Regions from separate parts of the Homo sapiens genome. Here region 1 is linked to region 2. Evidence: fine-mapped expression QTL. A gene starts in region 2. The other region holds a variant in brackets. All regions are shown on one strand. Distances are between the middles of the regions.

What was found.
Region 1: its variant is fine-mapped to the expression of SAMTOR in whole blood (TOPMed, PIP 0.91).

The regions. Positions count from the first base shown.
Region 1 is chr7:112,812,816-112,829,808 of GRCh38, forward strand. SAMTOR (S-adenosylmethionine sensor upstream of mTORC1) reads right to left here. Exons shown (of 5, transcript NM_152556.3): 5 at 6,332-9,558. The coding sequence ends at 8,929. Among named protein-coding and RNA genes, the nearest start is that of TMEM168, 31 kb to the left of the region's middle. The variant T/A (reference allele first, on the strand shown) is at 6,782.
Region 2 is chr7:112,932,486-112,949,478 of GRCh38, forward strand. SAMTOR (S-adenosylmethionine sensor upstream of mTORC1) reads right to left here and starts at 7,390. Exons shown (of 5, transcript NM_152556.3): 1 at 7,106-7,390. The coding sequence starts at 7,265. RefSeq lists a silencer at 7,219-7,318 and enhancers at 7,348-7,864, 7,519-7,858.

The DNA.
Region 1 (16,993 bases), 120 kb before region 2:
TAAAATGTAGGAGGAAGAAATTCTAGGCAGAGGGAGTAGCTAGTGCAAAGGTGGTCACATGATGTGTGTGGGTGTGTGTGTTTCCCCCTAGGACTCTAACACAGAAGGTGAAGGAGAGAATGGTGGGAAGTTGCATTGGAGAGGTACGGAGGGGCTGCATCATTTACATTTGGCCCCTTTATGATAAGGGGTATCCATATTAAAGTAAATTGCCTCTAGATGGGTTAAGAACAGTGTGTCATAAAAGTCAAGTGAACAGGTTTCATTTATATGTACCACCAGATGCTGCAGTGCAAGAATGTTTTCTGTAATGTTTGTTTTTATTTTTTGCCTTGTATTAATGCTAGTGTATTTAAGTTTCCACTGTCAGCCCCTGAAGAGCAGAGCAGACATCTGCTCCTTCTAGTACCTAATCCAGTGCCATAGCACAGAAATTCTCAACTAGTGAATCAATATTGATTGGTGTAGACTAGTTAACTATGTTATTGCCACAAATGACATCTAACCTGAGCTAGTTATCCCACAAATAGTCCTCACAGTTATGAAAAGGGAACCACAGTGTGTGATGTTCCCCTTCCTGTGTCCATGTGTCCATGTGTTCTCATTGTTCAATTCCCACCTATGAGTGAGAATATGTGGTGTTTGGTTTTTTGTCCTTTCAATAGTTTGCTGAGAATGATGGTTTCCAGCTTCATCCATGTCCCTACAAAGGACATGAACTCATCATTTTTTATGGCTGCATAGCATTCCATGGTGTATATGTGCCACATTTTCTTAATCCAGTCTATCATTGTTGGACATTTGGGTTGGTTCCAAGTCTTTGCTATTGTGAATAGTGCCGCAATAAACATACGTGTGCATGTGTCTTTATAGCAGCATGTTTTATAATCCTTTGGGTATATACCCAGTAATGGGATGGCTGGGTCAAATGGTATTTCTAGTTCTAGATCCCTGAGGAATCGCCACACTGTCTTCCACAATGGTTGAACTAGTTTACAGTCCCACCAACGGTGTAAAATTGTTCCTATTTCTCCACATCCTCTCCAGCACCTGTTGTTTCCTGACTTTTTAATGATCACCATTCTAACTGGTATGAGATGGTATCTCATTGTGGTTTTGATTTGCATTTCTCTGATGGCCAGTGATGATGAGCATTTTCTCATGTGTCTTTTGGCTGCATAAATGTCTTCTTTTGAGAAGTGTCTGTTCATATCCTTCGCCCACTTTTTGATGGGGTTGTTTTTTTCTTGTAAATTTGTTTGAGTTCTTTGTAGATTCTGGATATTATCCCTTTGTCAGATGAGTATATTGCAAAAATTTTCTCCCATTCTGTAGGTAGTCTGTTCACTCTGATGGTAGTTTCTTTTGCTGTGCAGAAGCTCTTTAGTTTAATTAGATCCCATTTGTCAATTTTGGCTTTTGTTGCCATTGCTTTTGGTATTTTAGACATGAAGTCCTTGCCTATGTCCTAAATGGTATTGCCTAGGTTTTCTTCTAGAGTTTTTATGGTTTTAGGTCTAACATTTAAATCTTTAATCCATCTTGAATTAATTTTTGTATAAGGTGTAAGGAAGGGATCCAGTTTCAGCTTTCCACATATGGCTAGCCAGTTTTCCCAGCACCATTTATTAAATAGGGAATCCTTTCCCCATTTCTTGTCTTTGTCAGGTTTGTCAAAGATCAGATAGTTGTAGATATGTGGCATTATTTCTGAGGGCTCTGTTCTGTTCCATTAGTCTATATCTCTGTTTTTGTACCAGTACCATGCTGTTTTGGTTACTGTAGCCTTGTAGTATAGTTTGAAGTCAGGTAGCATGATGCCTCCAGCCTTGTTCTTTTGGCTTAGGATTGACTTGGCAATGTGGGCTCTTTTTTGGTTCCATATGAACTTTAAAGTAGCTTTTTCCAATTCTGTGAAGAAAGTCATTGGTAGCTTGACGGGGATGGCATCAAATCTATAAATTACCTTGGGCAGTATGGCCATTTTCACAATATTGATTCTTCCTACCCATGAGCATGGAATGTTCTTCCATTTGTTTGTATCTTTTATTTCATTGAGCAGTGGTTTGTAGCTCTCCTTGAAGAGGTCCTTCACATCCCTTGTAAGTTGGATTCCTAGGTATTTTATTCTCTTTGAAGCAATTGTGAATGGGAGTTCACTCATGATTTGGCTGTTTGTCTGTTATTGGTGTATAAGAATGCTTGTGATTTTGCACATTGATTTTGTATCCTGAGACTTTGCTGAAGTTGTTTATCAGCTTAAGGAGATTTTGGGCTGAGACAATGGGGTTTTCTAGATATACAATCATGTCATCTGCAAACAGGGACAATTTGACTTCCTCTTTTCCTAAGTGAATACCCTTTCTTTCTCCTGCCTGATTGCCCCGGTCAGAACTTCCAACACTATGTTGAATAGGAGTGGTGAGAGAGGGTATCCGTGTCTTGTGCCAGTTTTCAAAGGGAATGCTTCCAGTTTTTGCCCATTCAGTATGATATTGGCTGTGGGTTTGTCATAAATAGCTCTTATTATTTTGAGATACATCCCATCAGAAGGGATAGCATTAGTAGATATACCTAATGTTAAATGACGAGTTAATGCATGCAGCACACCAACATGGCACATGTATATATATGTAACAAACCTGCACGTTGTGCACATGTACCCTAAAACTTAAGGTATAATAATAATAATAATAAAAAGAAAATAATAAATAAAAAGGGAACCACAAGGCCTACTAGATCAGTGAAAATTCATTTACTCAAGACAACTCCAAGTACATAATGTCTTAGGTAATACTCTATATAAAGTGGTTTGTCACAAGAGCTGTGCTTGCTTTCTTTTGAATTTTATGCTTCACATTCTGTGGGAAAATGTATTACACAGTATCTCACAGAAGTATTACTATTAACCTATATTTACTTATAATACTATCTTCTATAGCGTGATGTTAAAATTTGATAAATTTTAGGGAGGAAAATGTTTGTCTTTCTTTTTTTCTCAGACAAGCTCTTAGTCTGTTGCCCAGGCTGGAGTCCGTTGGTCTAATCTTGGCTCACTGCAACCTCCGCCTCCCAGGCTCAGATGATCTTTGTGCCTCAGCCTCCCGAGTAGCGAGGACTACAAGTGCATGCCACTGCGCCTGGCTGATTTTTAAAATTTTTGTGTACAGATGATGTCTCACTATATTGCCAGGCTGGTCTTGAGCTCCTGGGCTCAAGCGATCCGCCTACCTTGGCATCTCAAAGTGCTGGGATTACAGGTGTGAGCTACCACACCCAGCCTGTTCATTTTATTATAAATAATTTGTTGGAACTTTCTCAGTTATAGAATTGATGTTAGCAGTTCATTTAACCGTAAGACTAAAGGGATGGTTTGTGACATCCTGACTCCCATTCTGTATCTCTTCATTCCAACTGGCACCATTCCCTAGGCCCACAGGGTCTTCCCCACTGCCCTCCCCTCCCCCCACCTGCCCTCACCTTTTCTGGTCACAAGCTCCAGACCATTCCACTTTCCTATCAAAATATGTCTTCTTACTTCCAAATTCCCAAGTCCCTGTTCTACTTCCAACACACTGTACTCCAGTACTTTAATCCGTGGTAATGATTCAGTGGAGCCAGAGAATATAAAGCTCATTATACAGTTAGTTAAGCTGTTAGGCCCTCTTTCTGTCTTAAGCATCTTTCTTCTTGCAGACAGTCTCAAAGATTTTTCCTTCTTCCAGTAATCACCCATTTATTTCCAAGGAATGTTTCATCCATGCCTAGCTTTAGGAAACATGTTATTGCTTGGATTTCTATTGAAAATATGTGTGGCAATTTGGAAACCATTTTTTCCTGACTTCATTATTCTTTCATGTTTTAGCCTGTCAATGCAAACTCTATTATCCAGAGATGCATTATAGAACAGGAGTTTAAGGGAGAAGGAAATTAATATTGGCCATGGTCATGTTCGTATTCTTTTTCCTTGTAGAAGACAACAGGCATAGCTAGAGTGGCATTAGCTAACTGTAAAAAGGATTTGTAGGGCTAGGGATGAATGTAAATGTAAACAACTTAAATGTGGATTCTATTATAGCTTCACATAGAGTATCTGTGACCACAAATCATATTCTTCTCAGTAGCTGATTTCCCACACCAGTTCAAAGGGCTACAGAAGAAATACTGTCATCAGGACACTACGAATAGTTTACTTGGATATATGCAATAAAAGGATGCAAGTATATTTTCTCGCATTTTCTTCCTAAAGAGTTGCAAACAGGGCTGGATCTAGAAAATACTGTTTCCTTTTTTTGGGGTAATGCTCCCTGCCATTTTTATGGTTTACATGGGCATTCCAATCCATCAATAGATTTGTTTTACAGCTTTCAAATTATTAATGACAAATTCAAGAAACAATTCTGCAGTCAATGCCTATGGTCTAATTTTTTGTAGTTTTCCTTTAACTTAAAAACCATAGAAAGAAGTACCATCTTTGATACTACTGATGGGCCCAAACTTAAAAATTTATGATGCAAAATAGTTTTAGCTATCATTTATGATTACTAAAAACAACCATTGACAATAAATATTTTATACTATCACAAAAAGCAGACTAGCTTTCTCATAACTTAGCAAAGGTGTTATGGTTGAAAATAAAATTCAAAATAAGTTGAACTGCTTAACTCATAATTACTAAAAGTTCATACTCTATAGTGCCATATGTAACAAGATTCTCATTTAAAAAAATAGATGCATACTAATTTAGAAACTACTGAGATGGTTATTTTCCTTTTTTGAGACCTAGCTGTCACCCAGGCTGGAGTGCAGTGGTGTGATCTCAGCTCACTGCAACCTCCGCCTTCCAGGTTCGTGCGATTCTTGTGCCTCAGCTTCCTGAGTAGCTGGGATTACAGTCACATGCTGCCATGCCTGGCTACGTTTTGTATTTTTAGTAGACATGGAGTTTCATCATGTTGGCTAAGCTGATCTCGAACTCTTGACCTCAAGCAATCCACCCACCTCGGCCTCCCAAACTGTTGGGATTACAGGCATGAGCCACCCAGAAAACTACTGAGATTCTGAAACAAATTTAGAAAAAAGCATACAAACCAAAGTTTAAGGTACATTTAAAAGGCTTTCCAATTGTTGAGATTTCCATTTCTCTGCCAAGAGAAAAACAGGGTTTAGAAAAACCAGCGTATCTCCTTTTACGCATTTAGAGATCTTTAAATTGTTAGCTATTGTAGCCTGCTTGTTCACTGGGTTTTGTAGTGTGTATATATATAGGCCACCACTAATATACTTCGGGAGCTTTGCATTCACAGTAGCTCATGGATATGACTTTAACATGAATTATCATACTATCATGGTTATGGCAATTCAGTTTTTTTTAAGAATAAAGTTATTATAATACAAACATTCCTTGTAGTAAATGTTTGTATTATGGGTTTTTTTTTTTTTTTTGTAACAAAGAATTTGTTTTCTACCTTTGTTATCATTTAACAAGCAATTTACAAAACCAAGAAGGAACCAAATCTTTGATTTACATTTCTGCTGACCTAGTGTGTGGACTCTTGCAGAGGAATAGCATTGCTGCATAGTGCTCAGAAAGTGTGGGAAAACGGAACAAAAAGCTTGAATCCATTTTTTTTTCTGCTTTTACATCAGAATTTATATTTAGGTTATACTTTCCTAGAGGAATGAACAATACATCTCTCTTATCCACAATGTGTAATTTGCTAGTTTTGTGTTTAAAGCTTTTCTTATTTCCTGTTCTACTTCTGTGAATTAAGGATTTTAAGCAGGGGCAAAACTGTAGCATCAGCAGGTAATCATTCTTGGATACAGATACTAAGTACATGTAGCATGCTTGTCTTCACTCTTAGGTCATAAGCTCCATGAGAGCAGGGGACAATGATCACTCCAATCCTTGCTGCTTTCCCAGCATATAGCACATGGCAGAATTCAAACATTTGTTTAATAAACAACAACAACAAAAAACCTTTCATATCATGAGGAAGACATCTGCTGTCCTGAAAGAGCTGATAAATTATGTAGCTTACTTAAAAAAAAAAAAAGAATATGATATGGTTGACATACAATAAAGTAGAATTTATGCTGTTGCCCTGCTTCTGCCATAAACATGACAAAACATGACAATGGGAAGTCACCTGAGTTCTCTGGATCTCAGTGAATAAATTTATGACATTAAGGGATTTAACAAAAATGAAACCCAGTGGGAAAATTGTACAAGTCACTCAAGTTCTAAATTGCTTCCCAATGCTGAAATCACTTAGTGAGATACATCAAAGACCACAGAACTTTCGGTTTACAAGTAACAGACAAAGAATACTAGAAAATTTAAAATTTTTAATAAATGTGCTTTGTTCACAAAATGTGAAAAAATACAACAAACACACACGTACATTTTCAGGTATGCTACCTCCCACCACTTGGCAACTATGGTAAAACCACATGATCTAGTCATGATACTGAAGAATCCAACCAAATGATTACCATTTGTTTTTGAAACAACCAAATTATTTTGGAGAACCAGCTGTGAATGTGACAGGAGGCCTCATAACTTCTTTATATCCAAAATGAAATAATTCTTAGGAGTACCCATACAGTATTAGAAGGCCCTATTAACTTCCACTTGTTATTACATACATGATCTGGCATCAAGCTGCAATGACTGCTTATACTTCAATACTTATACACTGAATTGGTTTTTGTGGAATGTGTATCAGTTTAAATCTGTGCCAACCTAATTGGAATAAGCTGAATTTACAGTAACAAA[T/A]GATATAAATTCAAACAAATTTATACTAAGTGGTAGTAGGTTTTATAAAGAGACTTCCTCAGAGTACTACGTAAAATACATCATGCACACTTTGGAGCATAAGCAGAATCAACATCTGTAAACAATCAGAATTTATAGCACCAACATTTTCGCTGTAACACAAAGGCTGACTCCAGGGTCATACTATACCAGCCTTTCAAAAGCGCTGTTTTCATTTACTTTCAAAGCATTTTCATTTGGTGTATTGTTTTCTTTGCTCTTAAGATATTTACCCAAATCAAAAAGCAAACAGTATGGTAAAAGGTACTACCAAAATAGTTCAAAAGAGTTCTGTATTATCCTTAACATAGTGCTTTTTTTTCCTTCCCCTTCTCTTGGGGAAGCTACAAGACATAATCCTTCAGTGCTTAACTGGAAAGAACAGTCAATCCTAAATATTAAAGAATCTTATGCTGTTGAAAGTAAATGAAAAATTTCGAGTTATTTGTGGCATATTTGAGCAACCAATATTTATTGCATTTAATCAACTGACTTTAAAAAATTACAATCTTGTTACTTTCATTAATTTAGCATGTGAAATTTAATTAGAAATACTGGGTACATACACTCAACCATTTATATCATAAAGGATAAGTTTTATATTTCTAAATAAAGTTTGACATTCAAAGGTACTACGGCAATTCACAATAAGCACAAAAACATCAGCTTTACCAGAGTAAAGAAGTGCAGTTTATGAAATTTAGGATCAACTATTGAAAATGCAAGTTTCCTTTAAAAACATACAAACATACGCACAACATTAACCATGAAATCTGAAACTGTGATATTTCAGTGCAAAAACCTCAGTATGAGGTAATTTTAATGTAATAACCACTTGAAAAAAAAATCCACACAGTGGCACTCTTAAAAATGATAGCTTCCATGACAATTGCTGGCTGACAAGACAATGTGGACTAAATGTTCTTAACTGTTTAAACTAATCTTGTCTTGTTTGGACATATATTTTTCCCTAATCATTTGCTTCTGATTCAGAAACACAGAAAGGCATTTATTAATGTGGAAAGGGAAAATTCCCACAGCCAACTAATTGATATATTCAAAGAAAATTTTCTGATAAAGTTTAGATAGAAATTAAGATACCAAAAGGTCAAAACCATTTTATGAGATCACCAACAGAGGGTTAATTTTAGGTTTTTCCATATAATTTGAAACTTGTAGTGCGGCACCTCCTTAACGGAAAGGTGAGGACCCTATCAAAGTTGGTTTCAACAGAACATAAACTCTCTTCCAAGTGCAAACCCTTTCAAAAAGGTGTTTTAGGTCATTATTGAGTATTACATTGTTCCTTGCTTAAATAAAACATTTTGTAAATGAAGCCTAAGTTTAAGAAAAGTAAAAGTGAACTCTCAGGTAAATATACTTCACACCAAGGCCCAAATCAACAAGAAAGTTATGAAAATACTACTTTGGCAATGGTGTTTATTGGATAGGGCTAATAAAATTAGAATACACACTTTGGGGGACATCTCTCCCCCAATGTCTGATGCTGTCAAATGAGCTTTTAATATAAGGAAGAAATAAAAAGAATTATCACCAATTACAAAAAGTTCAGTAAATATTGGATCATCAGACAAAAAAGGAACATAAAATGACTTTCTGTAACATCACAATTTTAGTTAGAAAAAAGAAAAAGATAAGTGCATCACAAAACAACTAACCGATCTATTTTTCTGTATCACATTTAACTTGTGAGTCATCAAAGTGCAATCTACAGCTTTCTACATCTTAAAGTTTTCCATTCAATGGTTTATAGTCAACACTGAAAAGTTGAAAAGGAAAACATATAGCAAATTATGCTTGTTTTCACAATAGCACTAAAGAGAAAAAGGTACCTTTCTATGATAGTGCTAAATGCTAAAGTAACAGTAGTTTCTGCTATGACATGAGTCACTCTGCATGAAACTTTAAGCTTTCTATATAAGAATAAATTTTAAAATTGAGAAGTAGAAAAAAATAGCAAACTCTGTAAACCTCTGCATTTCTTTTATGCAAACCAGGTTTTCAGTACTGAGTTCATGTTAGTATTTCCAATTGGTGTAAGCAATTAGTTTAGGAGCCTGGACTGAAAGGGGCTTTTTGCTTCTATATTAACTTAAAAGTAATATGGGGTCTTCTAGCTCATAGAAAGGAATAGAGCTGGCTTGACTTTCTCCAGAATCTGAGTCATATGGCGCATCAGGGAGTTCTGTGAAACCATATGCTAGTTGTTCATCTTCTATATCTGATCGAACATAGCAGGAAGGGTTAGAATATTCCTCATCTTCTATACTGTTGAAATCTTGAGGAATATATAACATTCCTGGGTAGTTCCTACTAACCAAGTCACTTGTGGTTTTTAGAGAGATTTTCCTAAATGCCATCAGATGCATATGTGAAAATTTTGAGTACTTGAAGCGTTTAAAGCCCAGGGACTCTATAGCAATCTTCCAGCTTTTCATCATCATAGCATGACGGTTCTGATGGGAGGAATCAGGTGTGATGATTAGTAATAAACCATTTAACACTAACAGTTCATGGGCTTTCTTGCAGCAAATCCATCGCTGGTAAGGAGATGGAAAATAAGAAAGAAGGAGAGAGAAAACAACCACATGGAAAAGCTCTCCAGGAAGAGAATCAATAGGGTTTTTCAGCTGCTTCAAAAAAGCATCTATAGCATCCTGTGCAAGCTGGAGTGGTTGCTGAAGCTGTAAGTTCAGGAAATCACATTTATAGACACTCTGCAGAAACAGAAAACAAGGCATATTAAGAACTTCAAGATTATTTCCACTTTAGTACATAGACTTTTCAGCAAACCATTTCACATATCATAGTAATTCCAGCATTGATTATACATTTTTCCTTTTAAATTATTAAACTTGAACAGATGTATTCAACCACAACTTTTACAAAAATCTCAAAGTAATTAAGTCCAAAGACCTGCTAATCATCATTTAAATATATGTTTTTTGCCTAACAATTTAAAATGGGAAATAATTTGTGTATTTTGGGTTGGGACTTACATGAATTTTAATTTGGGTAGGAGTTTACAGGAATGACATTTCTATTTACATTCACTTTAACATTTACAGTTACCAAAAACAAACTAATATAAAAATGCTAAACAAGAAATACCATGAAATAAAGATGAATCAAATAAAGAGGATAATGAAAGAGGCATTATAAAATTTGTACAAGCAGAATGATTCCAAAACTTTAGTTCTTTGAAACTGTTAACTTTAACCATTTAAAAAGTAACCCTCAACATTACTTTTATTCTATTAAAAAGTTAATCCCTAGTTTGGAACAAACTAGATTTAGTTAGACAAATGACCATGGGAAACAATACAACAGAGGAATGAATAACATTATATAATTTGCTAAATCTTAAAACTATGGAAATGAATCAGAATAAGCAATTTTAAAATTAGACAAAAATAACTCTATCATATACCAATAGTTATTAACAAAGATATGACCTAATACCTTAATCCCTCACTCATGTTAGTGTATATACAAGCCGGCCACATAGTCATCTGGACTGTTTATTAGGAAAAGTGATATGCAATGTTCTAGTACCTGAAAAAAAGATGCTTTTCTTCTTCCCTTTTTCTTAAAGGCAGCTTTATTGATGTATAAGTGACAAAAAGCATAAGTCTGATAAGTTGTGAGGTATTTTTACACTCATGAAACCACTGGCATGGTCGAATTAATGAACAGATCCAACACCCCATAATTTTCCTTATTCCCCTTTATAGTCCCTTCCTTCTCTTCCCCTGCCAGCAGGCAACCATTGAAGTTTGTATTTCCTAGAATTTTATATAAATAATCATTTTGAGATTTTTCTTGCAGGTATTAATAGTTTATTCCTTTTTAAATTGCAGAATGGTATCCCATTGTATCAAGGATGTACCACAGTTGGTTTATCCATATACACCTGTTTATGGATATCTGGGTTGTTTCTAGTTTTGGTTATTACATTTCAAGCTGCTGTGAGTATTCCCATACATGTGTTTGAATCAACATTCTTTAATTTGTCTTGGGGAAATATCTTGGGTGGCTAGATCATACAGTAGGTGGTGTAGTAGGTTTAATTTTTAAATAACTCCCAACTGATTTCAAAAGTGGTTATGTAGTTTCATGTTCCCACCAGGAGTATGTGAGAGTTCCAGTTCCTCCAAATCCTTATCAACTCTTGGTATAGCTAGTCTATTTCATTTTAGTAATTGTAATAGATGTGTAGTGGTATTTCAGTTTTAATCTGCATTTTCCTAATGAGTTAGTGACATTTATCATCTTTTCCCGGACTTATTTGCCATCCAGATATCTTCTATGTTAAAGTGTCTGTTCAAATATTTTGCCCATTTAAAAATAATTGGGTTGCTTTAAATAAAGTTTTAAGTATTTTCTTTCTGGGTTTTGAGAGTTCTTTATTCTTGATGCAAGTCCTTTATGATATATGACTTGAAAATATTTTCTCAGTATCATGTGGCTTATCTTTTCATTCTTTTAACAGTGTCCTTTGAAGAGCTGAAGTTTTAAATTTTGATGAAGACTAATTTATCAATTTGTTCTTTCTTAGATGTTGCTTTCAAAGTCAGGTCTAAAAAGTCTTTTCCTATCCCAAGGTCATAAAGACTTTTTTTCAAAATGTTTTCCTTTAGTAGTTTTATAGTTTATGGCTTTTTCATTTAGGTCTATGATACATTTTGAGTTTTTTTTGTTTGTTTGTTTTTTTGTTTTTTTGAGATGGAGTCTCACTCTGTTGCCCAGACTGGAGTGCAGTAGCGTGATCTTGGCTCACCGCAACCTCCGCCTCCTGGGTTCAAGTGATTCTCCTGCCTCAGACTCTCCTGAGTAGCTGGGACTACAGGCACGCACCACCATGCCTGGCTAATTTTTGTATTTTTTGTAGAGACAGGGTTTCACCATATTGGCCAGGCTGGTCTCGAACTGCTGATCTTGTGATCCGCCCACCTTGGCCTCCCAAAGTGCTGGGATTACAGGCATGATCCACCACACCCAGCCAAGGTCTTTTTTTTTATATGGAGTGTGGTATGGTTTGAAGTTTCTTCTTTTGTATATGGATACCCCTTTGTTTCAACACCATTGTGGAAAAGACTATGCTTTCCATCTTGGGCAAAAATCACGTACGTAAGTTTGGGCTTATTTGTGAACCATCTATTATATTTCACTGATATTCCTGAACATCAATACCATGCTGTCTTGAATACTGTAGCTTTATAATTTTGAAATCAGGTAGTGTTACTCTCCAACACTGTCCTTCAAAGTTGTTTTGAGCTATTATTCTAGGTCCTTTGAATTTCCACACAGATTTTAGAGTAAGTTTTTCAATTTCTACAAAAAAGCCCACAAGAGTTTTGATGAGGACTGCACTGACTCTATACAGACAGGGTCTCACTCTGTCACCTAGGCTGGAGTACAGTGGTGTGATCTTAGCTCACTGCAACCTCCACCCTCTGGGCTCAAGCAATCTTCCCACCTCAGGCTCCTGAGTAGCTGGGACCACAGGCGAGTGCCACCACATCTGGCTAATTTTTCTATTTTTTTTTTTGTAGAGACAGGTTTTTGCCACATTGCCCAGGATGGTCTCGAACTTTTGGACTCCAACAATCCACTTGCCTAGGCCTCCCAAAATGCTGCGGTTACAGGTGTGAGCCACTGCACCCACCTTAGGTCATCTTTACTTTCTCCTAATTTGTGGTTTGCAGCATGTGGATTTTTCTACTTTTGTCAGATTTATGAGCTACATATTTCATATATACTCACATATAAAATAAACATTTCATATTTTTGATGCCAGAGTATGGTACTGTTTTTAGTTAAAATTTCTGATTGGTTGCTGCTAGTATATACACACAAATTTCTGTATATTGATCTTGTCTCTTGCAACCTTGCTAAACTCATTTGTTAGTTTTAGGAGCTTCTTTGAAGATTACACAGAAAAATCAAATAGATGATCGATGACACCTGTGAATACAGTTTTACTTCTTTCCAATGTGCATGCTGCTTATTGCTTTTTCTTGCTTTACTGAATTGTTAGAACCTCTAGTACAAATGCTAAATAGAAGCTGTAAGAGTAAACATCCTTATCTTGTTTTTGTGAGAAAAGCATTTTTCTTTCACCATTAAGGATGATGTTAGCTGGAGATTTTTCAGATACCCTTTATCAGGTTCAAGAAATTCCCTTAAATTCTGAGTTTTTTTTTTTTTTTTAAATCAGGAAAGTCCAGATGTTGAATTTTGTCAAAGCTTTGTCAAATGCCTTTTCTGTGCCTACTGAAATGATCAAATGACTTTTTCTTTTTGAGTTCATACGATAGATTGTTTTTGAATTTTAAACCAAGCTTGCATTCCTGAGATAAACCAAACTTGGCCATTATATATTATCCTTTTAAAATACCTTGTTGGATTCAATTTGCTGAAATTTTGTATAGAACATCTGTATCTATATTCATAAGGGATATGGATCTGTAGTTTTGTTTTATAACATTTGTCTGATTTTGATACCAGAGTAATGGCCTCATAGAATGAGTTGGGAAGTATTCCATCCATTTCAATTTTATGGAAGAGAATATATATAATTGGTATTATTTCTTCTGTAAATATTTGGTAAATTTTAACATGCAGGCGTTAGTGCCTGGAATTTTCTTTGTGGGAAGGTTTTAAACTGCCAATTCATAATTTCTTCAATAGATTTAGGGCCATTCATCTTATCTGTTTCTTCATGAATAAGCTTTGGTGGTTATGTCTTTCAAGGAATTGGTCCATTTGAATTGTCGAATTTATTGGCATAAAGTTGTTCAAAATATTTTCTTATACTTTTAATGTTGGTAAAATCTGTCATGATGTTACCTTTTTCTCTTTACTTCTGATCAGTAGGCTAGAGTTTATAAATTTTATTCATCTACTCAAAGAACTAGCTTTTGCTTTCATTAATTTTCCCTATTTTTCTGAAAGTTTTCTATTTCATTTGATTTCTGCTCTGATCATTATTTCCTTTTGGATTTACTGCTCTTCTTTTTTCTTCTAGTTGAAAAGTTGATGTCATTGCTTTGAGACTGTTACCTAATAAAGGTGTTTAGTGCTATAATTTTCCCCTAAGTACTACTTTTGTGACTTTAGTGACATCTATGCATTTTGATATCTTGTATTTTTATTTCAAAAAAGTTCTAATTTCCATTGTGAATTCTTCGCCAAGTGTTCAGTATACCTGTTCTAGGAATTATTTAGAGGGGTGCTGAAATCTCTATAATTTTATCAATGTTTATGTTTCCTTGACAGTTTATCAGTTTTTGGTTTACATATTTGGAAGCTTTGTTATTAGGTGCATAGACCAAGTTTGGTTTAGGATTGTTATGTACTCTTGATGAACTGACCCTTTAATCATTATGGAATGTCATTTTTATCCCTGATCATATTCTTTGCTCTGAAATATACTTTGTCTAATTTTAATGTAGCCATGCCAGCTTTCTTTTCTCCATCTTATTGCTTTCACTCTATTTGTGTCTTAATAATTGAAGTACATTTCTTATGGGCAACATATATTTGGGTCTTGGCTTTTTTCCCCCAATCTGCCAGTCTTTGCCTTTCAATTGGGGCATTTAGGCCATTTCTATTTAATGTGTTGATTGATGTGATTAGGTTTTAAATCTATAATCTTGCTATTTATTTTCTACTTGTCTCACTTGATTGTTGTTCCCTTCCCCTCTTCCTTCATCTTTTGAATTAACTAAATTTTTTATGATTTTATTAGCCTTGTTGGCTGATTAGGTATAACTCTTTTATTTCAGCAGTTGCTTTAACTTATCAGTCTACCTTCAAGTGATATTACACCACTTAATGTATAAGAACCTCAAAGTACTAATATTATCACAGTGGACTGGTTCCAGGAACCACTGTACATACCCAAATCCACGTTCAAGTCCTTTATATAAAATGGTATATTTGCATACACCCTATGCATATCCTCCCATATATTTTAAGTCATCTCTAGATTACTTATAATATGTAATGCAATGTAATGTTATGTAAATAGTTGTTATGCTATATTATTTTTATTGTTGTATTGTTATTTTTATTTATTGAGACAGGGTCTCCCTCTGTTGCCCAGGCTGGAGTGCAGTGGCACAATCTTGGATCACTGCAGCCTCAACCTCCAGGGCTCAAGCGATCCTCCCATCTGTCTCCTGAGCAGCTGGGACTACAAGTGCACCATGCGTGGCTAACTTTTTTATTTTTTGTAGAGATGGGGTCTTGCTGTGTTGCATAGGCTGGTCTCAAGCTCCTGGGCTCAAGCAGTCCTTCTGCATTGGCCTCCCAAAGTGCTGGGATATTACAGGTGTAAGCCACCATGCCCTGCCGCAAATATTTTTGATCTGTGGTTGACTGCATCCACAGATGTGGAATCCAAGTATATGGAGGGCCAAGTATATTTCTGATTCTCTCATGTCACCCTTTATGCTACTGTCATAAATGTTCATTTTATCTATATTAAAAACCCCACTCTATATCATTATTTTTGCTTAAGTTGTTGTATTAGTTTGCTAGTGCTGTTGTAACAAAGTACCATGAACTGGGTGGCTTAAACAATATAAATTTTCTCATAGTTCTGGAGGCTTAGAAGTCTGAGGTCAAGATTGTGGGAAGATTTCTTCCTTTTGAGGGCTGTGAGGGAGAATCTAATCAATGCCTCTTGCCTTGCCTCTAGTGGTTTGCTGGCAATCTTTGGTGGTCTTTGGTTTATAGATGCATCTCTCCAATCTCTGTGTTCATCTTCATGTGACGTTCTCCCTGTGTGCTTGTTTCTGAGTTAAAATTTCTCCTTTTTATAAGTATACCAGAGTCTTATTGGACTAGGGGCCACTGTAATCACCCCTGTTTAATTTGATTACCTCTGTAAAGCTCCTATCTTCAAATAAAGTCACATCTTTAGAGTTAGAACTCCAACATATCTGTTTTAGGTTGACATAATTCAACCCGAAACAATGGTAAATTATCTTTAAAGAGTTTAAACAACAAGAGAAAATCTTTTTAGCTGTATAGTTATCACTTCTAGTATTCTTCATTCCTTTGTGTAGAGCCATATTTCTAACTGGCTAAAGCACTTCCACCTTAACATTTCTTATAATACAAGCTTGCTAATATTGAATTTCAGCTTTTACACATCTGAAGAAAATCGATTTCATCTTCATTTTTGAAAGACATTTTGGCTGGGTATAAAATTCTAGGTGACTTTTTCCTTCAGTACTTTAAGGTGTCTTTACAATTTCTGGGAGCTTTTAAGATTTTATCACTAGTTTTAGAAGTTTGATTTGATGTTCCTTGGTGTAATTTTCTTGATGTTTCTTTTGTTTGGGGTTTGTTGGGCTTCTTTGAATTTGTGAGTTTAAAGCTTTAATTAAATTGGAAAGTTTTTGGCCATTTTTTCAAATCCCCCACCTTTTGGGGGATTCCAATTATGCTTATATTTAGTTGCTTAGATTTGTATCACTGATGCTCTTCTATTTAAAAAATTTTCTGTTTCATTTTGGATAGCTGCTATTGTTGTATCTTCAATTTCCCTTTCCTTCTGCAACATCTAATATGCATTAATCCTATCCAGTATGCATCTTCACATCACACATTATAGTATCTGTCTTTAGAAGATAGATTTGGGTATTTTAAAATATCTTCCTATTTCTACTTAGCTTTTTATACAGTTTTGATTTTTTTAAATAATAAAACTGTATTGAAGCATAACACATATAAGGAAAGAATATAAACTGTGTAAAAGTTTAGCTTAAGTAATTTTCCCAAACTGGTATTATCTCTATTTTAATGTCCCTGTTTCTGTGTCAGTTCAGGGTTGGTCATTGTTGGCTGATTTATCTCCTCACTGTGGGTCCTATTTTCTTGCTGCTTTGCATGGCTGTAATTTTTTTTGGATGCTAGACATGGTGAATTTTACCTTGGTGGGTTCTACATAACTATGGATTGCTATAAATATTCCTGAACTGTGTTCTGGGATGTAGTTAAGAAACCTGGAGACAATCTGAAGTTTTTGGGTCTTACTTTTAAGATTTGTTACATGGGACTAGAGCACTAGTATTTAGTCTAAGGCAAATTATTCTCCATTATTGAGGTAAGACCCTTCTCTGTGTACTCTATTAAATG
Region 2 (16,993 bases):
ATAAAAAGATAAAACTCAACTATCTGGAAATATTTACATTAGCTTCTTCTGTGCGTGTGCCTTAAATCTACAAGGCCTGGTGCTATGTACTAAGGCTACAGAGATAAAAGGCAGAGTTTTACTCAAGAAACTAAGTTTAGTAGATAAAACAGACAAATGAACTGGTAAGTTATAAATACCATAAAGGTAGGCACAATCATGCTATGGAAGCACAAGGTAAGAGGGGCACTTAGGTAGGGGCACTTACTTATGTAGGATTCTGTGCTAGGTGCTGTACACAACTGTGTTTGTGGGGATGGGGTTTGTGATGATTAATAAAAACCCAGATCTTTGTTTCAAGAGTTTACATTACAATAAACTGGCCTAAAAGACCAACCACGAAGAGGTCATTTCAAAAGAGGCCTGAAGATCGGACTCTAAACCATAATCCTTAATAATCTAGATTTAAAGTTGTTAAAAACATTATGCTGCTAAACTTCCAGTACAACAGTACTTCTGATTTAAAGAGGAACATTTTAGAAAATTTTACTTGAATTGGTGGGGGAAGGAAGAGGGGCAGGGATAATGCCCAGGAGCCATCCAATCCTTAATGCTACCCTGAAGACATAAAGACAGAATAGCTACGGTTAACATCTCTATTATTTTTGTTACTTAAGGAGGGTAGGGATCCTGCTGCTTTTGCTAATTAGCAAGGACTAGTAAAAACAGGAGCTCCAAAAGTACTGTATGATAAAACAGCAAAGTCTCCACTTAATCGTCAAATGTGAACAATGTATGAGATTGCTCTAGGAAATTAACAAAAATACTGAAGAAGATATGATTATAATAGGAACTATGTGACAAATGTGCCTGACTTATTTAGACACTATAGAAATGGCTACCAAAAGATAGAAAACTAATATAAAAATGTGTCAAAACTATCAATGAAGAAATTTAAAGACAACTTCTTAAAGTGTGCCTTAAAAACAAGTAGCTCCTTACACAGTGGTGCAGCGAGACTACCTATTATTGAAAAATCATTAACTCATTCAGTTATCTCAACTGATGTTTCACTCTGTATACTGTATTTTTATGACAGAAATAAATATTTCATAGGCACATATGAGGAAGGAATGAATGTGAAAAACAATTTGAACTCCCAGGACGAGCACATCCTTTAGTAAAGTACCCTGCTTTTCTTTGCAACAGAAAAATCTTAGTTCAATGTTTTCTCAAAAAGTGTTCCAATGATCACCTGAATTAGAATCACATGAGGGACATTAAATATGCAGATTCCTGGGCCCCAAATCTCAGATCCACCAAATTGCTTTCTGGGGACCTAAGAATCAGCATTTTAAAAAGTTCACTGGAAGATTCTGGAGCCAACTAACGTTTTAAGAACCATGGCCTTAGACGCTTTAAAGCTGCAAACATGATATATACTTATTAAAGAAAACAAATGCACCAAAACCAACTGAAAATACTGATTTGTTTGATTTTGAAAGACTGGGACTCTTTGAAAATCAAAGCAAATCAATATTTTCTTAAGAAATATTATAGTAAACATAATTTTACGTTTTCTTGAGGACTTTAGGCTGTCACTATGAACACCTTCACTCTACTGTAAATGAAGCATAAATGGCGGCAGATACAGTTCTACTACTGTGTTGGTACCCAGCACAGCAGACACCCGATCCCTGGGAGTACTCCCTGTGTTCTGTGATGGTTCCACTTTTCTTCTTCCAAACTCTAACTACTGGTGTGTTCCAAGGATCTGTCCTCAGTTCTATATTACAACCCCACTGTGCAGTTTACTTGCCTCAAAGATTCAGCCTCCACAGAGGGCTTCCAAATCCTAAACTTCCAAAGGATAGATTGCAAACTAAATCATTACCATTATCCCTATAACAAGCCAATCTGCCTGACTACCCTGTTCCTCTTGCCTCCAACTCCTACCATTTCCAAAGTGTATGCTAATAGCTATCTACATTTTCCCGGGAAAGAAATATTGGCATCATCTTTGACCCTTCTTTATTTTCACTGAAACTGCCTATTCTGATCTTCAAAGTCTGTCTTCTTCTATTTTCATCATCACTACTGTTATTTAAGCTATTATTAACTTTAGATCAGGTTAGTATAAAAGCCTCCTTTCTCCTAGATTCCTCCTACTACAATAGCTGTGTTTCTGAACCTCTTTGTCCACTGTGTACTCTGGGAGCTTTTATATATACAGATGTCTGTGTTCCACAAAGTTCCAAAGATTATACTGATGTGGAACCAAGGCTAAGAACCGCTATGTTAGTGGGTTTATTTTCCATTAAACAATCAAGGAATCTGCAACAATGCTTTTGGTTTCTAGTGTATCTTTTCAACTGCAAAAAGCCCCTAAAACGATACCTTGTCACAAAGAACACTAATAATAACAAAATCAAATAGCTAAACACTAATGTACATTGTATACCTACATGCCCTTCATTGAACTGACTATATAAATGGTCCCTTTATCTTTTACTATTACTGATTACTGAACTCTTTTCATTATTTTTCTTCTGTTGGGAATGGCAGTTCAAACTCTCCTAGTGCAAACTTAACAGGACCTTCTGTGACAACCTTCACCTTATTTATTTCAATGATCAGGCAAATATTCTATCACAAAAAGCTTTCTGATTCTATATCAGAATAAGTATAAGAAGAACACAAAAAGAAAACAGCAAAACCTCACTTGAGAAAAGAATCTGTTCAAAGTTTCTTAAGGTCTTGGACTTGGTCAAAATTTTAAAGCAGCTGTGTTTAAAGCCCACTGAGGAAAAAAAATAAGAAAAGTTCAATTAAAAGGAGTCTCATTCTAATTTTTAAAACAACTTCAAAACTTTGTTTCTGGAAAAACACCAACATCACATTCATTCTCTTATTTTTAGCCTTTTTGGTTTAAAATTATTTTAATACAAAAGTTTTTCCCCTTCCCCCACAATTCTCATTTTAAGTGTTTGCTGAAGAATAGTCAATCACAAATATATTTTTCAGCTTATCCTACACTGCCATGCTAATTCACCTGTTAAGATCACCCCCTAATTCCATGACTTTAAGAATACCTCTTTTAACAGTTTAGTACATACTTTTACTTTTTTTTGTGATTGATTTATAAGCTGCAGGTGTTTATGTGATAAACTGTTTTAAATCTGTTTGGTATGCAGAACAAGTAAATTCAGGGATTGAATAATTTGATAAAATGTCCCAAAGATATTCATAAGATAGGTTAAAAAAATAAAAACGAAATGGAATGAAAAGTGTACTTTTACTCCTGACAACTGCAGCCTTTTACATTTTCTTGGAATTTTTACATAAACGCTTTAAGTTTAGAAAGAGAAATGCCAGGCATAAAAGCAATCATTACAGGAATGGGTTCATGTGAATACGATTATGGAAAAAAAAAATCATACAAAGACAACCAAAAACACACATGGCTCTACTTCAGTTCTTGATTTGATACATATTTGTCAGGCTCATCTAATTAAATAATGAAGTCCCTGTTTGAAAAGCGAAACTAGTTTTTTTAATTAAAAAGCTGTCTATAACTCTTATACATTTAAAATATTTTTGGTTTACATGGAGGTCAAATTTTAAAAATTATGTATGCAAAGACAGAAAACACCTATATGTGCAAGCATATTTCCATTTATAAATATGGATCTATTCACTAGATAGTGAAAAACCTATCTTATGAATATCTTATGAATATAACCTCACTTTAAAAGACTGTCTCTTAACTATCAATGGCAGACACCAGAAATACCCCTTCGCATCACCACTGCTAGGCATCTCCCTACCATTTCTTTTTAGTAACTGCTTCAGATACGAGTGCTGCCTGGAACACACCTTTATCTCCAGTTCTCACTTTACCTTTAGACAAATTGGCACAGCATCTCTTAAGTGGTGAAACAAGGCAGGCCATAAACTGGGGAAGGAAAAAGTGGTAAACGAAAAGAGTGCATTAAGCCTACCTGCTACTCTTTACAACCCTGTTCACCCTTCCCCACCCCAAGCCTGTTCATCACCATCAACTAGCATCAGTTGGGCAAATGGTTGGAGAAGAGTGGAAAAAAATCTTTTCTTATCACAGCAAAAAAGAACAACACAACTTATTTTCATTGTTTTTCCTGTTTTATTTTCAATTCCACTAATAGAGATAAGGGAAAAGAAGGCTCTGTTCTCCAACCTCCCAGTCACTATCTATCCTGTCCTTAATATTCAATGGCTGTTTTGCCTCCTTATTCTACCCTAACTTATTTCCTTCCCTGCCATCTCTCCCCAAAAAACCCTCACCTTGTATAGCCCCAACTCAGCTAATCATACCTATCCTATGGATCATCCATTCCCATCAATTTATAACTTTTCACCTAATGGAAATTCTAGGGCCACTTCCTGCTTCTCATTTTCCCTCCTATTCTAACATTTGGAGTCACTAATATTAGGTTTGGAGTTGGGGGTGGGGAACCTATATTATTCCCATAAAATATGTATAGTATTAATAATGAACTACCAAAGCATCAAGAAAGTTATTTTAATATTTTTAGGACTCCGCTCACTTATCTGTAAAATGAAGAAGCTATTAGATCACCACTCTAATATCTGGCTGACAATTTCCAGTTCCTAATAATAGGGATCTTAAACTATAGATCTGAGGTAGAATACAGGAATTGTCTAAGAGGCACCCAGTTGAATCTGCTGATCAGCCATGTTTGGGAATCACTGCTAAATGCTAAGAGGTTCCTTCTAGTCTAAAACTCCAAGATCCTAAGCTGGAATTTTCACTGCATTTGCTGGTAGAAGAATTGTGATAAAAGGGGTACAGTTTCCATAGTTATTGGTGCTATAGTTCAGGTATGTTATTGATTCAATGGGCCTTTGCAGACTGATCTAGCACTTAAGCAATCTTCAGATTACAATAACAGCTGACTTGCAAATGAACTTGTAAAATATGTTTACAGACTGGGGACCATCAGCACAATACTAAGTCCTCAAAGTAAAACACTAAAAATTATTTCCTTAGTATTATTATGTGCACAGAGTTTTTCACAGATGACTTTTTTACTACTAATATTTAGCCTATATGTCAGAAATAAAGGTAGAAGGAGCATGCTCATTAGGATCACTTATTCTGCTAATTCACTGATGGGGCTTTGTATATCATTCAAGCAAAGCCTAGAGAAGTCTAGATCACCGGTGAAATTCAGGGTATTAAAGCGCCTAAAGAATAGTCTCATTCAAATGTTTAAACTGCCAGGACTTTAACTCCCCAGAAGCATACTAGATCATTCACTTATGAACTCCATGTATCTATTCTAGATCTGGTAACTTCCGATTCTCATAAACAAGAGTTCCTGTGGTTAATACTCAGGCTTAAAACATGGTTAAACATGTGGGAACTAAGCACATATAAACAGCACTTGAAGAGATGCCACATTAGTGTGTTAATTTGAGTGGAACCTATTCATTTATGAATAAATGAATAATGAAATTATTAAAAGGTAAAAATAGAAATGGAATTCTATGCTAGTCATTTTTCTCTTTAGAAAGATGCACTTAAATTTGTACAAAATAGCAGGATAAATTGCAGGAAAATGTGTCCATTTATTTCCTAATCTCTCCAAATAACATAAAATCTACAGTGAATTCCATTATGTAAGAGCATTCTTTGAATATCAAGAATGATGCAGTTGTTGCTATGGTAACTACTCATTTTATTGACTAAATTGTGGGTTTGGGTAGCATTCTTTCAAAAAACATATTTTACCATCCTAAGTAGGTCTGATAAGACTCTTTCTATTGCTATCTGTTAAACAATAACTACAAGCCCCATTTGGGGATGATTAAACAGCCTCTATTAAAAGCTAAGCTTGATTTGCTAAGGAAAGAAACCTTTAAAGTTTGAAAAATGAAACATATCAACTACATTCAAAAGAACAAAGGATACTTAGTTTTAACTTTCTAGAGTAGTTGAAACGTGTGTATAAATCAACAGTAACATGATCTTACCTGTCTGTATTCCTTCACTGCCATAATTTTCCTTCTAATCCTAAATTATTAACTAAGTATAGGACTAACACCAGAAGGCTGCTGACTTTTCAGTTTGCAATTAAGCTAAAATGAGAACCAGTGGAAAGCTTTCCTCATTTCGATACTCAGGAGAAGTCTCTCTCCCAAGCCTATGAAAACAGAATTTTCACTGTCAAAATCTTATAAAACAGCTGTGTACAAAAGCCTATATTTAAAGATATCAAGGATAACTGTAGACTCCAACTATAAACACTCTTCAGGCACAGGCAAAAGCCACTAAGGCTTCTTCCCCTATGAGCTTCCACAGAGGGGGTTCTCACCGGAACCCCATCCATGGAAGCCGAGGGTGGGCTTTATCGGCAGGTGTCTTTAGGAGGCTTCCAATACAAACGGTATTTTCAGAACCTGCCCAGATCTCTTCCTCATCGCCTAAATAAACAGTTAAGACCAAGTATTTAAGAAATGGGAGTGGGGGCCACGAGTGTAGCCCGCCCCCTTTTAACAATGTGAAGTCCAGTCAGCTAAAAGGCCTGCTGGCTTCCCAGCCCTGGAAGCCAATGCGAGGAAGGCTCGGCATGGTTGTAGGAATGAAGTACTAGGAAGGGGGTCTGATAAGGAAGCAAATGGTACAGCCGGTAGGTCAAGCGTAAAGGAGGGACAACTCAGGTTTCTTTTCGTCTTTTACAAATGGATTTTACCTGTCTTGTTTTACCTCGGCGTCTCTTGCAAAAAGCGACCCCCACCTCCTCTGTGAGCGTGTATGTGTTTGTGTGTGCCGAGACAACAACCTCAGCACCCCGGCTGGGGACAGGGGCTTGGAGGGGGTGGGGACTCAATTCCTTTACAGGCCTAGAACTCTCCCGAAGGGCCCTCAAAGAAAAGGGGGCGGGGAGGAGCGCGTCTGATGCCGACTAGGGGGCTCAGACCAGGCCCGGGAGAGCAGCAGCGGCTGGGGGGACGTGCAGATCCTTTACATTTTAATGGTGGCCTCTTTGGAGGAGGGAAGAGGTGACAAGCGGTTGGGGGTGATGAGGCCTCCCCTTCCTCCCTCACTCAGCGCGCTGTTTACCTTCTCGGTACTTCTTGCGGAGCCGCCGGTGGACGCTCTTCACCACACCGGAGAGCTTCTCCTGCTCCAGTTTCCGCTCCTGCTCCCGGGGCGGCGGAGTGTTCGGGGACCCGGCCCTCTGCGCACGAGCAGTATTTCGGCCGCCGGCCCCTGGCTCCATATCGCAGCCGCCGCCGCCGCCGCCGCCCCTCAGGCCCCCGCAGACGCTCCCCAGATGGAGGAGGTGGGGTAGGAGGAGGGAGCTGCGGAGGCAGCAGCCAGAGGAGGCAGAGGAACCGGAGCGACAGCCTTGGAGGTGGACCCTCACCCAAAAGTGCAAACTGATTGGTGGATTTTGAGGGCTGGGCGGAAACGGAAAAGGCTAAGGGCCAATGGGCAGAAAGCGCCGGCGGCGAACCCGGTTGTTTGGGAAGGCGAGCAGCTGGAGGAGGCGGAGCTTGCGGGGATAGGGAGGCTGAGGCAGTGGGAGCTCCAGGCCTGGGTGCTCATCTCTTCCCCACCCTCCCCGGATTCTGTGCGCAGGCGCTGTGGCTCGGCCTCGGGAGACGAGCTGTGAGCAACGCGCTTGCGCGTCTCAGTTTGCTTAGTTTGGGCTTTTTTACAGCTCGGCTTTCTGATGTCTTCCATCATTTTCATCCCCTACACTTTATAATCTGTTGCGATGCGGCCAGGGTGCTCTGCTTGAACCTCCGCTGCACCTTGTCACATGTAGGTTCCCTTTAGTTACTTGCGCTTTGAGATGACGTTACACTTCAGGGACCTCAAGCACACAAGCATTCTAAGGCTCAAGGAGAGGTCTGGCTACCAAATGCTAATTTAATTCTCAGGTCGACAATGGTTTATGCCTGCAGTACTACTGCTGGGCAAAGGACATAGAAAATGCGAAAAGGAGAGGGCCAAGAAAAGCAACAGGAGATGCAGGAGGACAATAAGGAACGATGGAAAACTCACAGCAGATGCCCTCAAGAACTTTTGTAGTGACCACGGTGTTAATAAGCAGCCTTCCCTGATCTTATTCGCATCAGCACTCTGAGCTTTTATGGTCAGCTCAGGTGACCTCCTGTCCTTTAATTTGGAGAGTTAGTCTATGCGGAGTGTATCTAAGTGGGTTTGGTAACCTGTTCACCCTCCTCCACTTCTTTTCCATCTCTTGGGGAACGCGATTGTTGACTTCTGTCCCAGAAAGGTGGAACACTGCTCTCTGGAGAGAGGTAGACTGCATTGGCTCCTGAAGTGGTACTGAGGCTGCTGGAGTGTCAGAGATTGAATAGACTGAGAGCCCCTAATGAGTTGTGTTGGATTGTGTACCACTTCCCCATTGCAGGTGTTGGTTACGTGACAGTCTATGGAAATGATTGCAATGGTAACATTTTGATAATGATTTTCTAACTACGAATAAAGCTTGCATTATGTAACTGTTTTATATGCTACCTTCTTTATATTGAATACGCTGAAGAGCAAAGAATTATACACACTGTCTAGGACACAGGAGAAGCGGGAGGTGAAGGGAGATTGATGGAATTTAAAGGCGGAAGATGTGTCCCTACAGCACAGTGAAGAGACAGATCAAACACAAAGACAAGGACATATAAACTTCAAAAGAACTCCTTATAATTATGAAGAGAAGTTAAGCGGAAGTGCCTAATAAATTGAAAATATGGTGGTCTTATTTGGGGGAATTTCATTTGGGAAGAAAGGGGAGCTTGAATTACATGTCTCTTTTGGCTCTTTCCATATTTTAATACATATGGAAGGCAAATAATGGTGCAGATATTCGAAAGATACAATGATAGTAAAAAGAGCATTAAATTTCACTTGTGCTGAACTGTAGTTTTATTTTTTAAAAAAGAACTTTTCAGCATAATACTAGCAAATGAACTTTTAAGGCCTCTTAACTGAAGATGTTCACTGAAGGAAATTTGGAAAATACAGAAAAGAGTAAAGAAAATAAGACATCTGGACTGAGAGATAACAACTTAACATTTTTTCTTTGTTTGTATATACTAATTTCAAATAGGATATTTCTTGATGCCTATGTGGCAATCTATTGTATGAATAGCCTACTATTTCATTAACCAATTCCCAGTTATTGTAGATTTATGTTTTTTCCAGCTTTTTTGTATTACAGATAATGTCATGACAAACACATTTGCACACAAGTATTTGTCCATTTCTTTAATTATACATTCCATCAGGCTAAATTCCTAAAAGTTCAATTTCTGAAGCAAAGGGTCAAACATGTTAGGGTTTTGATGTATATTATGAAATTGCCTTTTCTGAAAGATAGTAGCAGTTTATGCCATGTCCACTAGTACCTATGGGTGTTTATTTCATTGCACCCTTACCAAAGGTAGGTATTACAATTTACAAAGTCATTAATGAGATTTTAAAAACATGTCTATTTTTTAAATAAATATGTGGAATTTCCTGCTGTTTCGTAACTAGCTATTCTTATTGGTATAATATTTAACTTAAAATACCAACGTAAGAATAAATAAAAGGAACTTATTTAAGACTATCTAGTTGTTGTTGTTCAAGCAGATTGAAGAGTCCTACCTTTTAAAATTACTTTTTGACTTCACACTTTCTTGAAAAGCAACCGAAGAAATAACAATTGGACAGCCAGATTTTATTTTAAAGAAAATGAAATCTTTTTATTTTCTTTAAATTTTTTATTTAAAAAATGTTTTATTTAAAATTTTCATTTAAAAAATTTTAAATTTTTTATTATAAAATAAAGATTTTATTTTAAAAATAAAAATAAGATTTATTTTATTTTATTTTATTTTATTTTATTTTATTTTATTTTGAGATGGAGTTTCACTCTTGTTGCCCAGGCTGGAGTGCAGTGGCGCATTCTCGGCTCACTGCAACCTCCGCCTCCTAGGTTCAAACGATTCTCCTGCCTCAGCCTCCCGAGTAGGTGGGATTACAGGCATGCGCCACCATGCCCGGCTAATTCTGTATTTATAGTAGAGACGGGGTTTCTCCATATTGGTCAGGCCAGTCTCAAACTCCCGACCTCAGGTGATCCACCCACCTTGGCCTCCCAAAGTGCTGGGATTACAGGCGTGAGCCACGGCGCCAGGCACAGATTTTATTTTAAAGATGCGTGAATTCAAATGAGGTATAGGCCAACATGTCCTGAGAAATATTTTAAGGTGATTTTTTTTCCACTGACTATCCACCACAGCACAAAAGGGAGTTTATAACTACTTTCCTCCTGTGTAGTTAGCAATATTACAAAAAGCTTTCTATCTGTTAAGGTTGCTGAGGAGTCATAATGGAATTCTCCATTTAAGTGAAACAACAGTCCTAATTGCTGATAAAATGGATTCACTGAAGGAAGCAGGCTTGGTGCCATATTCAATGAGCATATCCTATGCCCAGGAAAATGTCAGCAACTTTCCCCACTTTGTGGTGACAGGTTTTTATTTACTGTAAATATCTTGTTTTAAAAAATTCTCTCATTATTTTAAATGCCTGTTAGGGAAAGAGGATGTTGGAATAAAACACTCTTCACTGAGCAGGACAAACCAGTCTGGGAAGTAGAGGCTTTTCTAATGACCGCTCTAAACCCCTGATAAGTAAATTTCTCATCCTCATTCTTTGCCTTACCTAACCAGCTTCTGTACCTAATTCCTTACACATTAGGTAGGTCAAGTAAGCTTCCTTTGTTCAAGAACCACTCAGTACAGAAAAAATGTTTTTGGTGAGAAAAATACCTTGTCATCTTTGTTTACAGTTATATTCTTTATAAGTAACACAAATTCCTACAAAGGGTGTAAAGAGTCAACATATTGCAGTAATAAAATATGTTCTATTCCCAGTGTGAGTTTGAAAAAATTAATGGGTGATGAAAAGTCAACTTAAAAATCCATATCAAAATCTGGGATGAGGCACTGAGGTAACCCGTAGATTCTGGGTGTGCTTTGTAAAAGTGTTGTACATTTCATTCTGACCCTCTTGAGTGTTGCTGTAGAAGAGAGAAGACTACATAATAGAAGTTGGGGTTCTTGGCCAAATTTGGTGGCTCACACTTGTAATCCAGGCACTTTGGGAGGCTGAGGTGGGAGGATCACTTGAGACCAGAAGGTCGAGGCTGCAGTGAGCCATGATTGTGCCGCTGTACTCCAGCCTGGGTGACAGAGTGGGACCCTGTCTCAAACAAAAAAAAGAAAGAAAGAAAAAAAAGAAATTGGGCTTCTTTGAATAATCTAAGGCATTATTTATTTTTATTCTTCAGTGACTTGGTATTATCTACTTTGCTTTGGCCCTCTTTATTATAAAAATCATAAAAGCAATTAGACTTTAATGTTGCATAATAAAAGTATTAATATTAAACTTCTGTTTCTAAAACATAAAAATGTTAAAACAACAGTGTATGTCAATTGTGCAAAAAGACTTGATCAGCTTTATTATTGAAGATACAGCTGTATTCCAAGCTGGACAAATCTTTGGTTCATGACTATTTAGAAATAGAATCTTTAGGAATTCAATTAAAATGAGGACTGGAAAAGTAAAATCTATGTCATTTTGAAAATATTTACCACTGTTTCCAAAATTCTTACCCATGAATATAAAAATATCCATGAAGTTTAAATGATTTTTTGTATTCAGAATTTTAAAAAGTAGATGTATCTTTAGTTGAGCACATTATAGAGAAATTGTTAAGCCTTTTGTTTTTCATATTTTATTTCAAATCATAGAAACTTTCTTTGGAAAATTCCGTATTTAATGTTTTGATAGAGACAAACAGTGGAGAACTAACAAGAAAAATATTTTTAGTGATATATTTCTATTCAATATGGCAGATTACAACTTAAAAATCCTTCTATTGATTAAAAATTAAAAGGGTTATTTTCTTTAAAAATTTATGTCTTTAACTACTATTTCAATGACTTCCCTGCAATTCATAATTTAACTGCGAACATTAAAAGTATTCAAAATAACACATAGATTTGTTATCTTTCAAAAGTTAATAGACTGGTGTTAACCAAGTGACAATCATTAATTAATGCTTACCTCAAAATACAATTATAAAACATACTATTTTGTGATATACTAATTAATGAAATATATCTGATAATCATAACAGGGCTAATGTAGGAATAGATCTACATAAAAAAGAAGTACACTTCTTCTAAGTGATAATGTCCTTACAATGAAATGTAGGACTAAAATTTTCTGTGTCCTAATTCCAGCCTTGCATTAACCAACAGAGCAAGGTTCTCTGAGCCTTATTTATCCTCTGTCAAATGTAAAATGAAGAGATTGGATTTGACTAGTGTTTTTCAATTTTTTTTTTACTGTGACTCTAGTAAGAAATACATATTACCTGATGGCACAGGACACTTAGACATATACGCTACATGTATATATATATATGTACTCTACATATATATATATTATAAATATATATATATAAATTTATACCCACATATATAATGAGGACAAAAGTTTCACCAAGCAATACTTATCTTCACTAATGCAGTGCATGGTGGTATTTTCCATTCTATTTTTAGTTTTTTAAAACTATAGGGTGTACTACGTTGATTTTATGGCCCTCTAATGAATCACAGCCTAAAATTTATAAAATACTGGCAATTGGAAAGATCCCTTTCAGTCCCCAAACCACAGTAATTCTATGACTCACATTGATTTTGAGAAAGCTTTATGAGATGTACCTTACCATGTTGAGTCTACTCATTCCTTTCAAACATCATTTTTACCTTGGGAGATTTCTTACATTCTGAATGCGGGCTCAGAGAAGTGACCTAGACTCTGCTAACCATAGTCTCTGAATGAAGTGTCTATTTGGAAGAGAGCAAAATGACGAAATAGAAGCCATAGGGAATCTTTTGGCCTGTTGAGGGAGAGTGGAGGTGTAGTTCTTTTAGGATCACCAAGCCCAAGGGTCTACCTTCCAGTGTCTAACATTTGCTTTATAAGCCAAATAATAGGGGCAATGGGTCTTTCCCAGAGTAGTTGCTGGGTCGACTTATGTGGGGATCTGGGCTGCGTAGTCTCCAAGTCTGCCTCTCTGATCCTTCTGGAGATCTGGGATGCCTTTTCTATTTGAACTCGCTGAAGTGAGTTGTATTTTTTTATTGCACAGAGGTGGCTAGTGCTGAGACATTCTGGAAGAGAATTAGGTGATCGAGAAGCAGTGTTTGCTAGCTTTCTCTGTGACTTGAAGTGATCTGCTATCTGCTAGGTTCCTTGGTTTCCTAGCTGTCAGATAATGACGACTTACCATTCCTACCTCACAAAGTTGTGTGAATAAAAAGAAATTACGGACTGAAAGTGTTTCAAAAAGTTAAGAAAGTACAAATGTGAATAAATGGTATACATGTAAATTGTTTCTAAGGGGCCAGAAAAAGTGAAATTTTTCTAAATGCAGGAAGCTAAATTTACACTTCTTTTATTAAATGTACATCAGTCTCTTTTTAGATTTTAATAGTTTGTCACTGACTTCCCATTTTTTTCTTTTCCTGAAGGTAGAACATATTCCCATATTAGCTCTGAAATTACAAGGTTTTATATGTCCAAGTATGAAGTAATCACCATATAATTCCATATAATTCCTAAAGTTGACTGTTATCTCTCCCCCAAAGTTTTTGTAAGATAATTAGAATAAATGTTTTATGAAAAGCCAGATCAAAATTTACTACCATATTTTAATAAACATATTTCTTTTTTAAAAATTATATATATTTAATTATTTTTAAAAAATTTTTCTTTTTAGAGATAGGGCCTTGCTGTGTTGTCCAGGCTGGAGTGTAGCAGCGCAATCATAGTTCACTGTAACCTCAAACTCCTGGGCTCAAGTGATCATCCCCCTTCAGCCTCCTGAGTAGCTAGGACCACAGGTGCATGTCACCATGCCTGGCTAATTAAGTTTTTTTTTCTTTTTTAGAGATGGGGGTCTTGCTGTGTTGCCCAGGCTGGTCTTGAACTTCTGGTCTCAAGGGATCCTCCCTGCCTTGCCTTTCCTAAAGCAATGGGATTACAGGCATGAGTCATTGTTCCTGACCACATGATGTTTTGATATACACAGTGGAATGGTTACTGCAGTCAAGCAAGTTAATATACACATCTTCTCACATAGTTACCTTTCCCTCGTTGTGTGTTAAAAGCACCTGAAATCTATTCTCTCAGCAAATTTCCAGCATGCAGTGCAATACTATTAACTATAGTCCTCATGCTATACATTGGATCTTTAGTCTTACTCTCTAGACTTATTCATCCTACATACAACTACAGCTTTGCACCCTTTTACCTCCATCTCCCCATCCCCTTTGTGTGTTCCCAATCCCCACCTCTAGTAACCACCATTCTACTCTCTGTTTCTATGTATTTGTCTTTTTTTTGGAGATTCCAAATGCAGTTTTAATTTACTTCACCATGTAATTCAAATCACTACCATTTGAAAGTGACCATATCATTCAAATCACTACCATTTGAAAGTGTGCAGGGGCCTTATTAATTATTATGCTAAGACAACAGGCATACATTGGGACTTTCTCAGACAAACTGAGATGTGTGATATGTGGCCACCCTTCTTACACTTCAGTAATTTCTACAAAAACAGGAGGACAGATCAACAACCCGGTAGAAAAATGGATAAAGGATATGAACAAATGATGATGATGGCAATAAGAGTAACCGCTTACATGGTGCTTATTATGTTCTAGGCACTGTTCTTGATATTTCTGCATACGAATTATTTTATCTTTACAACAACCCTATGAGGAAACTGAGGTACAAATGAAGAAACTAAAGTAAGAACATTTAAGTAGTTCATACAAAGAAATATAAATTGTTCTTAAATATATCAAAATATACTCACCTCATTCATAGTAAAAGAAATAAAAAACTGTGCTCTGATGACATTTTTCATCTATGAGATTTACAAAGATCTAAAAATTGAGAATATACATTTTCTATTGCCTTTGGATGGCAATTTGGCAGTAACTATCAAAAGTATAAATATCTATACCCTTTGAGGTGTCAATCTCATTTTAAAGAATTTATTCTTCAGCTATGTACATACATGTAGGAAATTATGATTGTACAAGGTTATTTATTGTGGAATTTTTGTAGTGGCAAAGAATTGGAAATAATCTAAATGTCCCTCACTAAGACACTGATTAAATAAATTATGGAACATCCTTACAAGCCATTTTATGGCCCTACATCCAGGGCCATAAAAATGAATGGGGAAACTTTTAATGTGCAGATCATGGAGGATGAGAATTGGGTTCCTGGGAGGCAAGAGTGGGAGGGATGCTCTGTATTCTTCTATAATTTTGGAGTTTTGAACCATATGAATACTATCTACATTTTTAAACTATGCATTTTTATTTTATCTCTTTTTAAAATTTCAATAGCTTTTGGTGAACAGGTGGTTTTTGGTTACAGTGATAAACTCTTTAGTGGTGATTTCTGAGATTTTGGTGCACCTGTCACCTGAGCAGTGTACACTGTACCCAATGTGTAGTCTTTTATCTCTCACCCCCCTCCCATCCTTCCCCACAAGTCTCCAAAGCCCATGATATCATTCTTAAGCCTTTGCATTCTCACAGCTTAGCTCCTACTTATAAGTGAGAACATACATTATTTGGTTTTTCATTCCTGAGGGTTACTTCATGTAGAATAATGGCCTCCAGCTCCATCCAAGTTGGTGCAACATACATTATCTCATTTCTTTTTATGACTGAGTGCATATATACCACATTCGATGGTGTATATATACCACATTTTCTTTATCCACTCATTGATTGATGGGCAGGTATGTTGGCTCCATATTTTTGCAATTATGAATTTTGCTGCTATAAACATGCATGTGCAAGTGTCTTTTTCATATTATGGCCATTCTTGCAGAAGTAAGGGGGTATCTCATTGCAATTTTAATTTGCATTTACCTGATAATTAGTGATGTTGAGCATGTTTTCATATATTTGTTGACTGTTTATATATCTTTTTTGAGAATTATTTATTCATGTTCTTTGCCCACGTTTTGATGGGATTATTTATTTCTTTTCTTGCTGATTTGTTTGAGTTCCTTATAGATTCTGGATATTAGTCCTCTCTCAGATTCATGCTTTGTGAATATTTTCTCCTAGTCTGTGGGTTATGTGTTTACTCTGCTGATTCTTTCTTTTGCTGTACAGAAGCTTTTTGGTTTAATTATGTCCCATTTACCTATTTTTGTTTTTGTTGCATTTGCTTTGGGTTCCTGGTCACGAATTCTTTGCCTAAGCCAATGTCTAGAAGGGCTTTTCTGATGTTGTCTTCTAGAATTTTTATGGTTTCAGCCCTTAGATTTAAGTCGTTGATTCATCTTGAGTTGGCTTTTGTATAAGGTAAGAGATGAGGATCCAGTTTCATCATCCTACATGTGGCTTGCCAATTATCCCAGCACCATTTGTTGAATAGGGTGTCCTTTCTCCATTTTATGTTTTTGTTTGCTGTGTCAAAGATCAGTTGGCTATAAGTATTTGGCTTTATTTCTGAGTTCTCTATTCTGTTCCATTGGTCTATGTGCCTATTTTTATACAAGTACCATGCTGTTTTGGTAACAATAACCTTGTAGTATAGTTCGAAGTTGGGTGATGTGATGCCTCCAGATTTGTTCTTTTTGCTTTGTATTGCTTTGGCTATGCAGGTTCCATATGAATTTTAGGATTTTTTTTCTAGTTCTGTGAAGAATGATGATGGTATTTTCATAGGAATTGCATTGAATCTGTAGATTGCTTTGGGCAGTATGGTAATTTTAACAATATTGATTTCCTCCCCCCACCCCAAGCATGAGATGTGTTTTCATTTGTTTGTGTCATCTATGATTTCTTTCAGCAGTTAAACATGATATTTCTAATTTTCCTA